Regions from separate parts of the Homo sapiens genome. Here regions 2 and 3 are each linked to region 1. Evidence: fine-mapped expression QTL. A gene starts in region 1. Each other region holds a variant in brackets. All regions are shown on one strand. Distances are from middle to middle.

Region 1 (5,229 bases):
AATGAATGGTGAGATCTCAGCTCACTTCAACCTCTGCCGCCCGGGTTCAAGTGATTGTCCTGCCTCAGCCTCCTGAGTAGCTGGGATTACAGGCACCCACCACCATGCCTGGCGAATTTTTGTATTTTTAGTAGAGACAGGAATTTCGCCATGTTGGCCAGGCTGGTCTTGAACTCCTGACCCCAGGTGGTCCACCCACCTCAGCCACCCAAAGTGCTGGGATTACAGGAGTGAGCCACTGCACCTGGCCGGGCACGCTTTCACATCACAGGAAAAGAGAGTTCTCTCCAGGACTCCTGCAGCTTCTCTGGGACTGGCTGCAGTACCATACTGAATTCCTGTGGCACTCTTCTGCCACTCCAGATCCCAAGGTCTGAATCTGACTCCTTTTGGATCAGCCAAAGGCAATGAAAGCCACTGTCCATCTCTTTTAAATGGCATTCACCCATCTCGCAGAAGAAACCTAGCATGTTCAACTATTAATCACATGGAACCCTCTTTGTTTTGTCAAAAACATCTGAAGTTGTTTTTGACTTTCCCTCATGGAACTTGTTGACTATTGGTCTCCTGCAGATACTTAGCTTTAGACAGAGTTTACCACCTGTGTTAGTCAGCTTGGGCTGCCATAATAAAATTCCAGACTGGGTGGCTTCAACATTAGAACTGTATTTTCTCAGAGCTGTGGAGGCTGAAAGTCTATGATCAAGGTATCAGCCGATTCAGTTTCTGGTGAAGGCTCTTGTCTATGGACCACCTTCCCATTGTGTACTCACATGACAAGAAGGGCAGGTGAGAGAAAGCATGCTCCGGTGTCTCTTCTTAGGAGGACACTAATCATAGCGGATCACGACCTCATTTAGTCTTAACTACTTTCTTACTCCAAATACATTACCATTGGATATTAGGTTTTGAAGACAAAATTTGAGGGGAACACACACAATTCAGTCCCCAGCACACTCACTTTGGGCTGCATTTCCAAATTCTCCCTGGCTACAATGGGCCTGAATTAGTAGCCCCTCTGTGTTAATACCCACAGCTGGGAGCGGCTCATGAGAAGCGTGGCCTCACCCAGAACACAATGCTGGATCCAGAGTGTAGCGGCTCATGAGAAGCATGGCCTCACCCAGAACACAATGCTGGATCCAGAGTGTAGCGGCTGGGGTAATCAGTCGTTATGCTCCCCACAGGAAATCTGAATGGCACATTCTCATGGCTGCCACAGGCTGACAACATGGAGCACCTATGCCTATTGTTACATTAGCAGGGCAGGTGGAATTGCTGGTCTCAGCTGTCACTTGCCTTAATAAACTGCATAATTCCATCAGGGACTCCAGTCTTGCTGAGCTTCCTGAGGTACTCGGTGATGTCACTGGTTTGCAGCCCAACGCTGACAGCTGCATACAAGGAGTAGGCAGTTAGTTTGTACTCATGCACATGGGTTGGTCGGCACACTGGCTCTGCAATAGCCACCAAGAAGTCTTGGGCATATTTGTAAACTGGAGAGAAGGCTTCCAAGAAGATATGGCCATCGGGAGCCTGAGAGATACCAAATGGACAAAACAGACAAGGAAACATGAGTTGCAGAGACTACTGGGCTCTTGCCCATATCATTATCAAGAAAGAATAAGCTGCCCAACACCACAGATATTCTTGCAAGCACTCCTTCAGACAACTGTGGGGCCTGTTACATTAATCAGATACAGAAGAGTAAAGAAAAATAGAAGAAAGTGTTTCCAAAGTCAACAGCTGTTTCCTACTATTCTGCACAGAGAAAGCCCATCTTACTGGCTATCCTCAAGTTACCTTTTGGCTAGATTTCAACTAAATGTATAACATTAATTATTTAAAGTAGAGCAAAAGCTTGCTACCGAACATGTCTTCCATTATTTGAGGAAACAAACTGTTACATGATAAATGCTATTTATTCGGCAGATAAAAGGATTCACTACATGGGGTAGGGCTGGGGAAGGAGTGAGAGTAAACCGAGGGGTTAGAGCTGTTGGAAGCCCAGGTCCGGCCGCCACACGTGTGCGCAACTGCTCGCTGTTGCCTTGGGCTGTTCCAACGTGTGTGGATGAAAATTCTCTCCCGGCCAGTTCTAGGGGCAGTATCCTGAATGTCAGTTTTGACTCTGAGGATGCCCAAGATTTAGCTGCCGCTCCGCACACTCCTGGGCCCTGCCCAAGCTAAGGGCATGCTTACCACCCAGAGGGGCCTGGAGGTGTGGTCGTCCTTCAGCGGCATTTGCAGCCTGTAGTCCTTGGCTCCATATTCATCCACTTTGGTGCCTGACTCATCCACCTGCTTCCCCGCCGCCGAGGGAACCGCTTCCTGAGGGTCGTTCCCCGGGGCGTCCTCTTCATCATCCTCTTCATCCTCATAGTGCCGCTTCCTGGATTTCTTCTTGTCTGCAAGATACCAACACAGAAGTAAGCCCAGCAGGAGCCTTCAGGGTTCCCTCCGCACCGCTTGGCAGCATTTCACCTGCGCCGCCGCAAACTCCTAGCTAAGAGCCACCTGCATCCCGCAGGCGTTGCGCCCCTCACCCGTCTCCCCTAGGCCGAGTTCGCTGGGCTGCGCCCAGGTCCAGCATCTCTCCCGCCCAAAGGCCTGTCCCAACGGGGTGCGCGCGGGAGGGCCAGCAGGGTCGGCCGGCGCAGAGGCCCGGAGCAGCTCCGAGGCAGAGCGGGGGGCAGGGCCGGCAAGGGCAGTCGTGGCTGAGCGTGCCCGCGCAACGTCTCACCGCGGTCCGCTCGGTCTCTTTTGCCCATGGCAGCTACAGCAGCAGAGAGAAGATGACCCCGCTCCCACAGGCCCGCCGCGGCATCCGCTCTGGGGGGACTTCCGGCTCAATCCGGAAGCTCCCTGTTGTCCACACAGGATGTCCCGCCTCTAGGCGCCGTGATGTGGGTGGCTGGAAGAGCGGAGAGCCAGCGACCGCCGATCTGTTAGCTCGTGCGACCCAGCGGCGGGGGTCCTCCACTGTTCATTTCTCTACAACTGAAGGAAAATACTGTGTGTTGAGCACCTGTGTAGTGCGCGAATTAAAGGCCTCATCCTTCTGGAACTTAAATTTTAATGAAGCCATGTGGGCAATAAATGTGTGTGTGAGAGAGAGAGAGAGAGAATGTGACCTGAGTCCATGGGTAAGGAAGAATTCTTTTTTTTAATTAAAAAAAATTTGGCTGAGCACGGTGGCTCACGCCTGTAATTCCAGCACTTTGGGAGGCTGAGGTGGGTGGATCACTTGAGGTCAGGAGTTCGAGGCCAGCCTGGCCAACATGGTGAAACCCCATCTCTGCGAAAAATACAAAAAAAAGTAGCCAGGCATGGTGGCACACGCCTGTAGTCTAAGCTACTTGGGAGGCTGAGATGGGAGAATCTCTTGAACCCAGAAGGTAAAGGCTGCACTGAGCTGAGATTGCACCACTGCACTACAGCCTGGGCGACAGGCCGAGAGTTCGTCTCAAAAAAAATTTTTTTCTTTTTTTTTTTTTTTTTTTTGAGACGGAGTCTCGCCCTGTCGCCCAGGCTGGAATGCAGTGGCGCGATTTCAGCTCACTGCAAGCTCCGCCTCCCGGGTTCATGCCATTCTCATGTCTCAGCCTAAATAAAGCAGATTACCCTCAATAATGCGGGTGGGCCTCATCCAAATCAGTTGAAGGCCTTAAGAGCAAAGACAGGTTTCTCAAGGAAAAAGGAATTCTGCCTCCAGACTGCAACACAGAAAGTTCTGACTGAGTTTCCAGCCTTTGGACTCAAAACTACAACATCAACTCGTACCTGAATTCCCAACTTGCCAACCCCCACAATTGCATGAGCCAATTCTTTAAAATCAATCAATCAATCTCGCTTGCTCAGTGGGCCTCTTGGTTCTGTTTCTCTGGAGAACGTAACACAGATTTTTGGTACGGGGAATAGGGTACTGCTGTAACAAATACCTAACAATGGGGAAGTGGTTTTCAAATTGGGTAATCGGTAGAGGCTGAAAGAATTTTGAGGCGCATGATAGAAAAGCCTCTATTGTCTTGAAGAGCCTTGGTAGAAGTATGGGCATTAAAGGTGATTCTGGTGACGGCTCAGATGGAAAGGAGAAATATGTTATTGAAACTGGAGGCAAGTGGTAGAGAGCTTGCCTGAATTGTATTCTGTTGGGTGGAAAGTAGAACTTATAAGTGATAAGCTTGGACATTTTGCTGAGGAAATTTCTACATGATGGTTCAAAGTGAGGCCTGGGCCAGGCGCGGTGGCTCACGCCTGTAATCCCAGCACTTTGGGAGGCCGAGGCAGGGGATCATAAGGTCAGGAGTTCAATACCAGCCTGGCCAATATGGTGAATCCCCGTCTCTACTAAAAATACAAAAATTAGCTGGGCGTGGTGTCGCGCGCCTGTAGTCTCAGCTGCTCAGGAGGCTGAGGCAGGAGGATCTCTTGAACTCAGGAGGCAGAAGTTGCAGTGAGCAGAGATCACGCCACTGCACTCCAGCCTGGGCAACAGAGCAAGACTCCGTCTCAAAAAAAAAAAAAAAAAAAACTGAGGCCTGCTTTCTCCTTATTGCTTATAGTGAAATGTGAGAAGAGATACACTGAAGGTGGAATTATTCAACAAAAAGGAACCAGAACTTGAAGATTTGGATCATTCTTATACTCACATTGTAAAAAAAAAAAAAAAAAAAAAAAAAAAAAAAAAAAAGAGAGAGAGAAAGTATGCTCTGGAGAAACACTAAGGATGTGGACAACCATTTATTTGCAAGAGATTAGGTGTGTGGCTTATAGACCCAATCACCCATCTCCACAGAAACCTGGACAGTTTTGACTAGGGTACATAGATGGGATGAAATGAAGGAAGGCTGTTGGACTCCCAGGATTCCACAGGTAGGAAAGGGATTGGCAGGGGCAGTTCAGAGGCCAGTGAGGCTGCTTCCGCCACCACAGGACTGAAAGGGACAGGCTTGGGTTTGAACCCACGGCCACCACCTCCTCAGTTCTGAGGGTGCGGGGCTGCAACCCCAGTGGGCCCTGAGGACAGAGGATCAAGCCAGTGAGGATTATTCTCAAGCCTTAAAATCCTGTCATTGGCCCTGTTAGGTGTCAGACTTTCTTGGCACCTCCAAGTCTTTTTCCTTCCCATTTCTCCCTTTTGGAATGGAATGTGTCTATCCTCTGCCTATACCATTGTAATTGGAAGCAGATAACTTGTCTGTTCTCATGGGTTCATAGATAGAAAGA
Region 2 (5,229 bases), 36 kb after region 1:
TGTAAATCTTCAAATGGCTTTATAACCTTTGTAAATTCCCACCCTATCATAATTATTAACCTCACCATAATATTCATTTATACTCACTAGGTAGGATGGTATTCTGACTGCTGATAGGATGATAATACAATATAGATTTCTGGCATTAAGACAGTTTATTTAAGTAATCACATTTCTTATGAGACAATAACCCACTCTATTTTACTTGGTTCTGTGGAAATGATGCTATATTTATTAGTACAGTGTCTCACCTTTCCTCATAGTTTTTTGAAATTAAACTATGTGAGCATTTAAGTTCTGGTCCAATTTAAAGCAAAAAACATTTTAGCCTTATGTAAAGGAGTCATTGTGAGTATATGCAAGCATTTGTTAGTGAGACAGGGAGGAAAAAGAAAGCAAAATTATTACCAAGACATGTGCATAAAAGAGAGTACTGTCTACACTTGTCTGTAAAATGATTAGGAGCTCAATTTGAGTCAGGATTGATTTAGGCTTCATAACAACTGTAGCCACAATAATACTGGTCCCTAATATTTTTATTCCTTCCATATACCCGTGCTTACAAAAGATCAATATAGTCAATTACTAAAAGGAGATAGGACCAAAAAAAAAAAAAAGCTATGAAAATTTTGTCTCCTTATTTGACAACCCTTTTTCACAGTAATGCGTATGCCAACGCACTCTTGGTTGAGACCTGTTTATCAGCATACACTCCTAACCTAAAGGAGTTTTTCCTCCATCTCCCTTTTATAAAAACAATTAAAAAGAATAACTGCCAACATATAAGAAAAATAGATAATGGTCATATCTAGCAAAGCCATTCCAAGTTTAAAGCAGTGCCAATAAAAGACCACTAATTCTATACTTTATGATTTCCAATTTCTTCTTATGCTGGCACTGACGTCAAACAAGAATATTTATTAGAATAAGACTGAGGTATTCAGTGTAATTTTAATTCAAAATATATTTAAAATGTCAATTTAACTAGTACATTTAGCTTGTTTTGTCTAATGCAACTAAAGTGAATTAGAGCTGGGCACTGTGGCTCACGCCTGTAATCCCAGCACTCTGGGAGGCCAAGGTGGGTGGATCACATGAGGTCAGGAGTTCGAGACCAATCTGGCTAACAGGCTGAAACCCCATCTCTACTAAAAATATAAAAATTAGCCAGGCATGGTGGCGGGCGCCTGTAATCTCAGTTATTCAGGAGGCTGAGGCAGGAGAATCACTTGAACCCAGGAGGCAGCGGTTACAGTTAGCTGAGACCGCGCCACTGTACTCCAGCCTGGGTGACGGAGTGAGACTCTGTCTCAAAAAATAAATAAAATAAAGTGAATTAGCAATTTTTTAAAAAATGACAAGTACCGTAATGTGATAAGAAATGGGGATAAAGAAAGAAATGTACAATGAACATCTGAGCTTTGTACAATGTACAAAATGTATAAATGTACAATAAGCTTTCTAGTTTGAAAAGTAAAATGTACAAGTGTTCTCTCAATTTAATGCTACAACAATCCCATGATTTAAAGATGAAGACACATTTACTGGTCTCAGGTTCATCAGAGAGCTGGAATTTGAATTTGGGTGTTTCAAATGTTCTTTCACCAAATTTTAAAACTATATCGAAATATATCTGAATGCAAAAGACAAGCCATTTGTATTTTGCTTGTGTATCACCTCTGCTGCTCGCATTTCTGCATTCCTGAAACCCAAAGTAGGACTTATTTAAGACAGACACTTCGAAGAGAATGGTCATAAAATAGCTTCTTCTGGGGACCAAAAGAGAACATGAATAATGTCTATTTTTTTGATGGTCCACATGCCAATTCAATTTTTTCTTTGATTATCAACAATCCTCTTCTGTTACCAATCTTTTTTAGATTCCCAACCACATTTGTTTTTCCTCCTCTTTAACTTTTCTCTTTTAAATCCGCCCCTCATACATGTTTTCATGCCATCTTTAATGGCCATACTCACTGCCCTCTCTCAAAGAACATTTATACCAGCGGTTTTTTGAAACAATGTTAATGCTTTTATCAAATAAAAATGTAGATTATCAATGTTTTATACAAATTGAAGAACAGACAGAATGGGGAGTTGAGAGTACCTGTGTCAAACTCATGTTGCACGAATAAAGCCTCCTTAAACTACAGCATGCAAGATCTTTATTTCTTTATATCATAATCTTAATTATAACAATAAATTAATGGCAAATGAAAATGAATACTAATAAAGTAATAATAAAGCATAATATAAAAATTCTTAGTATCTTTATTTTGAGAGCATTCTTGGCAATCACTAAAACCCTAGAGAAAGGCTTGTGAATTTACACTCTATTAATTTTAATACATTATAATTACTTCTTTTAATTTTTTTCCTCCATTCTATTTGTACAATTAAAACCTTTTTTTTTGAGATGGAGTCTTGCTTTGTCGCCAGGCTGGAGTGCAGTGGCACAATCTCGGCTCACTGCAACCTCCGCCTCCCGGGTTCAAGCAATCCTCTTGCCTCAGCCTCCTGAGTAGCTGGGACTACAGGCATGCACCACCACGCCCAGCT[A/G]ATTTTTGTAATTTTAGTAGAGATGGGGTTTCACCATGTTGGCTAGGATGGTCTCGATCTCTTGACCTTGTGATCTGCCCGCCTTGGCCTCCCAAAGTGCTGGGATTACAGGCATGAGCTACCGCGCCCAGCCTAAAACCTCTTTAAAGTTTTATTTGAATTTGTTAACATTAAAATACCCTGAGTATATAAATAAAGAATTTAAATTGGAGATTACTAATCCTGTAAACTTGAATTTCCAAGGGACGTCAAATATTAGAGTGTATTTAAATTAAATTATAGGAAGTAGAGAAATAAAATATTATTTATCAGGAATATGTTTAGGTGCCACACTACATTAAAGGATGGAGAAGAAATTGAGAAATCATTCATTTCATAATTCAGACACTAGTTTCTTACCTATTATAGATAGCCGTTTTTTCCTCTCTGCTCCAAATACTGTATTATCCAAATCTTCTAGTGATGGCAATGGTTCTAAATTAGTAGCCTACAAAGGAGAAAAGACAGTTAATGCTATTCTTCCTCCTTGGGGCTTTAAACAGAATCCTCTCCCCTACCAAGTACAAAACATTTTATATTGTTTGTGAGCCTTAATCAAATCCTCTACTCTTTGAAATTTTAATTCTAACATAATTCTAAGTTGTCAGTTTCTATTAGCTTCGTATGTACAACATATTATACTTATTTATAACTATGACTGTGGTTTTTGAGGAGTAAGGATATTAAAGTATAGTAATTAAAGGATGTAAGTTTACATTTAATCATAATGAAAATATTGCAATGATTATAGAATATAATTATGTTTCATATGTTAACTTTTACAAGCCTAAGTCCTATAATTCTTACTGAAAAAAATATCCCAAATCATACCTGTGTACTTCCATTTATTACAAGTAATATCTTGAGGCTCTTCATATGAATACTACGATCCAGCAGTTCCACAGCTTTGTCCAAGTCATCTTGAGTAGTTAATGGAATTACCAACTAAAAACAAACATAAGGAACCATGCAGCTATCTCACCAGGTCAAGTTCTTCCATGAGCATCTCCACTACTAAGGAATTACAAATGTCAAAATACCTTGCTCTTTGATTTGTTACTATGATGAAAGTCTGAATGTGTATGTGTATATTGTTTTGCCCTCCTCATTCTACCGCCACTAAAATCTTAGAATGAACATGTATGTTTTTAAATTTTTCTTTATTAATCATTACATTCTTCTAGAAAATAACATTTAAAGATTAATTTTCTAGGATATTTCCATAATATTGCTAAATTTAAGTTATAGTATGTTCGCCCCTAAAAAGAATGAAGAAGTACAGACAAAGACCATATGAAATAAAGGTACTACTTTTCTTCTGTATAGATGAAACTCAGTTCTTTTTTCAATAGTAACCACAAATTTGCACTCTCAGCTGGTGTGCTCTTCAACATACCAACATCCTGAGCACCTGCCATGGAGGACAGCTGCCATGGAGGGGTACCACTAGTAACATATCTGCAATCTACAGCCCACCTAGAGTTCTTCTCTCTGAGCCTAGTGACCTGACCACTATACCCTAAAACAAATAAGCTAATGAGTTAACTATTCCATAGTAAACCCTGCATGTGGAATCTGCTTTCACTAGTCTTCTCATGCAGCAGATGTTATAGAGGACAAAAGCACCTAAGAGGTCTATGAGAAAAAGTGTAATTCATACAATTTAAGAAATAAAAATATGTCCTTTTTTTAAAAAAAAAGTCAATTTAGTAACTTAAGAAGACTCTGTCAATAACTTCAAAGTATATTCCATTTCATTGAAGGAGGAACAGAATAAAAACAAGTGAACATATTCTGCACTAGTTAACCTGCTCTACTCAGCACAATATATGAGCCATTAAAATGCAAGGCTGAATTAATTTGGGGTCTCTACAGTATAAATTCTTTGAAGACAAGGACCCCCTACACCAGCAATGAGCAAAGAGCAGACAACCTGGTAAATGCTGTCTAATAAATCTCACAGTGTTAAAAGCTCAATCTGAACCCAAACCCACTAGCTGGCATGGTGTATGTTCATTCTGCAGACTTCTTTGTGAAAAAAGTCCTTGGGGTTTTTGATTTTTTGTTTTGAAATGGAGTCTCACTGTCATTCAGGCTGGAGTACAGTGGCAATCTCAGCTCACTGCAATCTGCCTCCTGGTTTCAAGTGATTCTCCTGCCTCAGCCTCCCCAGTAGCTGGGTTTACAGGCATGCACCACCACGCGTGGCTAATTTTTGTATTTTTAGCAGAGACAGGGTTTCAACATGTTGACCAGGCTGGTCTCAAACTCCTGACCTCAAATTATCTGCCCGCCTGGGCCTTCCAAAGTGCTGGGATTACAGGCGTGAGCCACCATGCCCAGCCAAAAAAGTCCTTGTTATAAGAAAGGCTGCCAAACACGAATATAAAGAAGGATTTATGTGAATTCCATCAGACAATCTGCTTGCATTTACTTACTCTGTTGTTAAAATATATTCCCAATTTCTGTTTGTAGCTAATTTTGTATTACTGTAAGGGACCGACTAACTGGGCTCTTTTCGCTCTATGAGAATTTTTTTCTAATAAAATACAATTATTAACTGTTTGGTATCATAGAACAAGCCTGATCTACTGATCTACTTAAACACATTTCTATTTCCCACCAATTATG
Region 3 (5,229 bases), 100 kb after region 1:
TCACTTTCCATCATGATTGAAGTTTCCTGAGGCCTCCCAGCCTTGCTTTCTGTACAGCCTGTGTAACTGTGAGTCAATTAAACCTCTTTTCCTCTTAAATTACCCAGTCTTAGGTAGTTCTTTATAGCAATGTGAGAACAGACTAATACACCTATTATTACGAACTTGTATTATTAGTATAGTACATTTGTCATAACTAGTGAACCAATATTGATGCATTGTCATTAACTGAAGTCCATACTTTATTCAGATGTCCTCAGTTTTTTCCTAATGCCCTTTTTGTGTTCCAGGAGCCCACACTATGCTTAGTCATCACGTCTCCTTAGGCTTCTCTTGGCTGTGAGTTCCCTTGTTTTTGATGGCCTTGTGCTAAGGAATACTGGTTAGGTGTTTGGTAGAATATTCTTCAATTGTGAATCATGTAATGTTTTTCTCATGATGACACTGAGGTTATGGGTTCTGGGGAAGGAGACCACTGAAGTAAAGTGCCATCTTTATCACATCCTATCAAAGGTAGTCCATTGTCTTAGTCCATTTTGTGCCCTGTAACAAAATACCACAGACTGGGTAATGTGTAATGAACAGAAATTTATCTCTCACAGTTCTGAAGGCTGGGAAGTCCAAGATTGAGGGGCCCACATCTGGCAAGAACCTTCTTGCTGTGTCATCCTGTGGGGGAAGGGCAAAGAGAAGATGAGAGAAAGAGCAAGAAGAGTCAAACTCATCCTTTTATAAGGTGCCCACCCTAGATAATGACATTAATCCATTCATGACGGCTCTCCCCTCATAACTTAATCATAACTTAAACACCTCTTAAAGGTCCTACCTCCTAACATTGTTGCATTGGGGATCAAGTTTCCAAAACATGACCTTTGGGGGACATATTCAAACCATAGCAGGTATATACTGTCAGTATGATTTATGACTTGGTGTTGAGCTTGATCACCTGCCTGAGATAGTGTTTGTCAGGTTTCTCCCCCATAAAGCTACTCTTTATTCACCTCTTTCCATACTATACTCTTTGCAAGGAAGTCACTATGCTCAGCCCACACCTAAGGAGTGGGGAGCTATGCTCCACCTCCTTGTGTGTGAAGTATCTGCATAAATTACTAGGAATTCTTCTGCATGTGAGATCTGTCTCTTCTCTCCTGTTTACTTATGTAATCTTTTATTTATATTAATATAGAATTGTGGGTATATAACTTATGCTCTGGGTTATAATCTAATACTACATTACTTATTTTGTTGCTCTAATTATTCTGGGTTTGGCCATTGGTAGCTCTTTGATTTGTCTCCTGTGTCCCTTTGACACCCATCATTATGATTTTTTTTTTCCTTTTTCAGCACTTCTTTGCTTTCTGGCACTGCCAGCGCTCCAAAATCATCTTGAATATTTCCTGTCCCAGTCTAGAATCAGCCATTTTTCCAAAGGGCCCTGGTTTCTTTTGTTGGAGAATGGTGTTAGAGACCAATATCTGGTGCTAGGTGTGCTAAGGATTCTCTTTTCATTAAGGATAGTATTTCCAGGGCCAGGCGCAGTGGCTCACACCTGTAATCCCAGCACTTTGGGAGGCCGAGGCAGGTGGATCACCTGAGGTCAGGAGTTCAAGACCAGCCTGACCAATATGGAGAAACCCCATCTCTACTAAAAATGCAAAAAATTGGCTGGGCATGGTGGCATATGCCTGTAATCCCAGCTACTCAGGAGGCTGAGGTAGGAGAATTGCTTGAACCTGGGAGGCGGAGGTTGCAGTGAGCTGAGATCATGCCATTGCACTCTAGCCTGGGCAACAAGAGTGAAACTCTGTCTCAAAAAAAAAAAAATAGTGTTTCCCATCAGCCTCCCAGAAGACTACCCATTTTGTTTTTGCAGCAATGTCTGCTAATTGTGCCCCCAAATTCATTCTCCTCTTCCCATTGTAATCAAATTTTATCTGAGCATATAGGACTCTCATAATAAAGAGTTCATTCCCTAGCCTCCCTTGCAGCTAAATGTGACCAGGTGACTAAGTAATGGCAAAAGGGAAGTCAACTGAAGTGTGTCCATCCAGGGACCTTCACTGAGAGTCCCTTTCTTAAGAGACTACTGCTTTTACATCTTTCCTCGTCCCTTCCTCCCACACTGGAGTACTTGCAGGCCATCTTGGAGAGTCAGGACATGGGGCATACACAGGAATGGTGGCTCTGGGAGCAGAATCCCCTCCCTAATCTGGACCACAGGGCTGTGTAGTTTCTCATGGGAGATGTAAATGACTGTCCCTGGTAGCTGAACTGACTGCTAATAGTATCTTGTTGGCTGGAGTTGGGTCACATGGTTATGCATGCATAGAAGTCAGGATCACCATGATGGGTTCAGCCCACACGAGGACCACCGGGGGCTGGGCACACTGCCTGGCTATATCTAAGCAGAAGCCGGATTAGGTTACAAAGGAGCTGAGAGATGGATGGTTGTTGCCTAGCAGCCAACTGTGTTGGCTCTGAGAAGCTCATGGAGAGGCAAGACTTGGGGGACCAGAGTGGACTGTAGGGCCTACCCCATATATAAATGATGTTCCACAAATCTATTATGATTATCCCCAGGGCCACTTCACTGTTACAAGAAGCAAAACATTAGTAAATCTGATTTTTAAAAGTTCACAGTGCTGCCACAGCCAAACAAAAGTTATTTCTGGGATTTCTGCTGTGTGGAATGCCCACAAAGTTTTCTAAGTGTGGAAAGAGGCAATGTGACAAGATTTCTAACAGACAGTTGTCTTGAATTCTCTGTGATCTTGATCAGCTCTAATTCTTTTATCCATCAGTTGCTAGTACATTAACTTCTTACTTTAACATTATGTTTGTTATATATTTTCCATTGTTACACATATTTATAATAGAAAATATGGAAAACAGGAGGAAAAGAAAAAGCTCATTCCTTCTATAGTTCTGTTTCTATTCAATTTTTTCTCTATTCGTAAATCTTTGTTGTGCTGGTATTTTTTTATTTTTAGATACGTTTTTAAATCGTTCTTAGGTATTAATAGTTGTGATCTGTCCTATACATGCAATTTTGTATCTTACAGTTTTCACTTCACATGGCATAAGTAGTTTCTTTTTT[C/CT]TTTTTTTTTTTTTTTTTGAGACAGGGTGTCGCTTTGTCACCCAGGCTGGAGTGCAGTAGTGTCATCTCGGCTCACTGCAACCCTCACCTCCCAGGTTCAAGTGATTCTCTCACCTTAGCCTCCCAGGTAGCTGGGATTACAGGTGTGTGCCACCATCCCTGGCTAATTTTTGTAGGCTTTTTTTTTTTTTTTTTTTTGAGTTGAAGTCTCGCTCTGTTGTCCAGGCTGGAGTGCAATGGCACAATCTCAGCTCACTGCAACCTCCGCCTCCCAGGTTCAAGCAAATTCTCCTGCCTCAGCCTCCTGAGTAGCTGGGATTACAGGCACGTGCCACCATGCCCAGCTAATTTTTGTACTTTTAGTAGAGACGGGGTTTCACCATGTTGGCCAGGATGGTCTCGATCTCCTGACCTGGTGATCCACCCACCTCAGCCTCCCAAAGTGCTGGGATTACAGGCGTGAGCCACCACGCCCAGCCGGAAAAGGAAACTCTTATACACTGTTGGTAGAATGTAAATTAGTACAACCACTGTGGAAAACAGTATGGAGATTTCTCAAAAGACTCAAAATGGAACTACCATATGATCCAGCAATCTCACTACTGGGTATTTATCCAAAATAAAGGAAATCAGTATATCAAAGGGATAGCTGCATTCCCATGTTTATTGCAGCACTATTCACAATAGCCAAGATATGGAATCACCCAAGTGTTCATCAAGAGTTGAATGAGTAAAGAAAATGTGGGCCGGGCGCGGTGGCTCACGCCTGTAATCCAAGCACTTTGGGAGGCTGAGGTGGGCGGATCACAAGGTCAGGAGATCGAGACCATCCTGGCTAACACGGTGAAACCCCGACTCTACTAAAAATACAAAAAAATTAGCCAGGCATTGTGGCGGGTGCCTGTAGTCCCAGCTACTCGGGAGGCTGAGGCAGGAGAATGGCGTGAACCCGGGAGGCAGAGCTTGCAGTGAGCCAAGTTCACACCACTGGACTCCAGCCTGGGCGACAGAGCGAGACTCCGTCTCAAAAAAAAAAAAAGAAAAGAAAATGTGGTATATATACACAATGGAATACTATGAAGCCATTGAAAACAATGAAATCTTGTTATTTGTAGCAACACGGATGATCATTATGTTAAGTGAAATACTCAAGGCACAGAAGGAAAAATATTGTATGTTCTCACTGATATGTGGAGCTAATAAAACATTTGATCTCATGGAGGTAGAGAGTAGAATGATAGTTACCAGAGGCTGGGAAGGGTGAGCGGTGAGGAGGACGAGGGAAAAAAGAGAGGTTGGTTAATGGGTACAAACATACAATTAAATAGAAGGAGTAAGTTCTGGTGTTTGATAGCACAGTAGGGTGACTATAGTTAACAATAATATATATATTGAAATGGTTAGAATAAAAGTTCTGAAAGTTTCTAACAAAAAGAAATGATAAATGTTCAAAGCGGTAGATATCCTAAATACCCTGATTTGGTCATTGCACATTGTATGCATGTATCAAAATATCACATGTACCTGATAAATATGTACAATTATTATGTATTGTCTGGGCACAGTGGCTCATGCCTGTAATTCCAGTACTTTGGGAGGTCGAGGCAGGCGGATTGCTTGAGCTATAGAGTTGGAGACCAGCCTGGGCAACATGGTAAAACCCTGTCTCTACAAAAAAAAAAAAAAAAAAAAAAAAAAAAGCCTGGGCCTGGGAGGCAGAGGTTGCAGTGAGCTGTGATTGTGCCACTGTACTCCAGTCCGGGCACCAGAGTGAGACTCTTTCTCAAAATAAAAGTTATTATTTATTGATAAATTTTTTTTAAAAAAATGCCAAATTGCTAACAAGGATAACCCATTTTTCGGAAGTTGGCTATTTGCTGGGAGCCTACTTATGTTCTCCACCACTGCAGCATCCCCCTAATGGTCTGATGGTCCACTCCTTACTTCCAGTGTCTTTGTCTTGACAGCAAGAAGAGAATTGTCTGTTTCTTCCCTTTCTCCTGTTTAATTATCTTATTGTCTTCCCATAATTTTCAATTCACATATAAGGAAAAAGTGGCAGAGAAAGGTCAGGTGGCTGTCACCAGGCCCCAAGGACACTTAATGGAGCAGCCAGAGAGGACCTCAGAACC

Direction of the effects. Alleles are on the strand shown, and positions count from the first base shown. SD is a standard deviation of normalised expression in the study named.
For the expression in tibial nerve of the gene that starts at base 2,834 in region 1, allele G in region 2 goes with a lower level than allele A (moderate effect, 0.59 SD a copy in GTEx).
For the expression in NK cells of the gene that starts at base 2,834 in region 1, allele C in region 3 goes with a lower level than allele CT (moderate effect, 0.63 SD a copy in Schmiedel 2018).

What was found. PIP is the estimated chance that this variant, and not a neighbour inherited with it, causes the effect. A credible set is the group of variants that fine-mapping cannot tell apart.
Region 2: its variant is the best candidate, but not a certain one, in a credible set for the expression of ERCC3 in tibial nerve (GTEx, PIP 0.88).
Region 3: its variant is the best candidate, but not a certain one, in a credible set for the expression of ERCC3 in NK cells (Schmiedel 2018, PIP 0.79).

What each region holds. Positions count from the first base shown.
Region 1 is chr2:127,291,311-127,296,539 of GRCh38, forward strand. ERCC3 (ERCC excision repair 3, TFIIH core complex helicase subunit) reads right to left here and starts at 2,834. Exons shown (of 15, transcript NM_000122.2): 1 at 2,744-2,834; 2 at 2,203-2,408; 3 at 1,300-1,536. The coding sequence starts at 2,771.
Region 2 is chr2:127,326,963-127,332,191 of GRCh38, forward strand. It overlaps MAP3K2 (mitogen-activated protein kinase kinase kinase 2), which reads right to left. Exons shown (of 17, transcript NM_001371910.2): 6 at 3,430-3,543; 7 at 2,959-3,046. Among named protein-coding and RNA genes, the nearest start is that of ERCC3, 35 kb to the left of the region's middle. The variant A/G (reference allele first, on the strand shown) is at 2,560.
Region 3 is chr2:127,392,334-127,397,562 of GRCh38, forward strand. All of the region lies in intron 3 of MAP3K2-DT (MAP3K2 divergent transcript), which reads left to right. Among named protein-coding and RNA genes, the nearest start is that of MAP3K2, 7.0 kb to the left of the region's middle. The variant C/CT (reference allele first, on the strand shown) is at 3,098.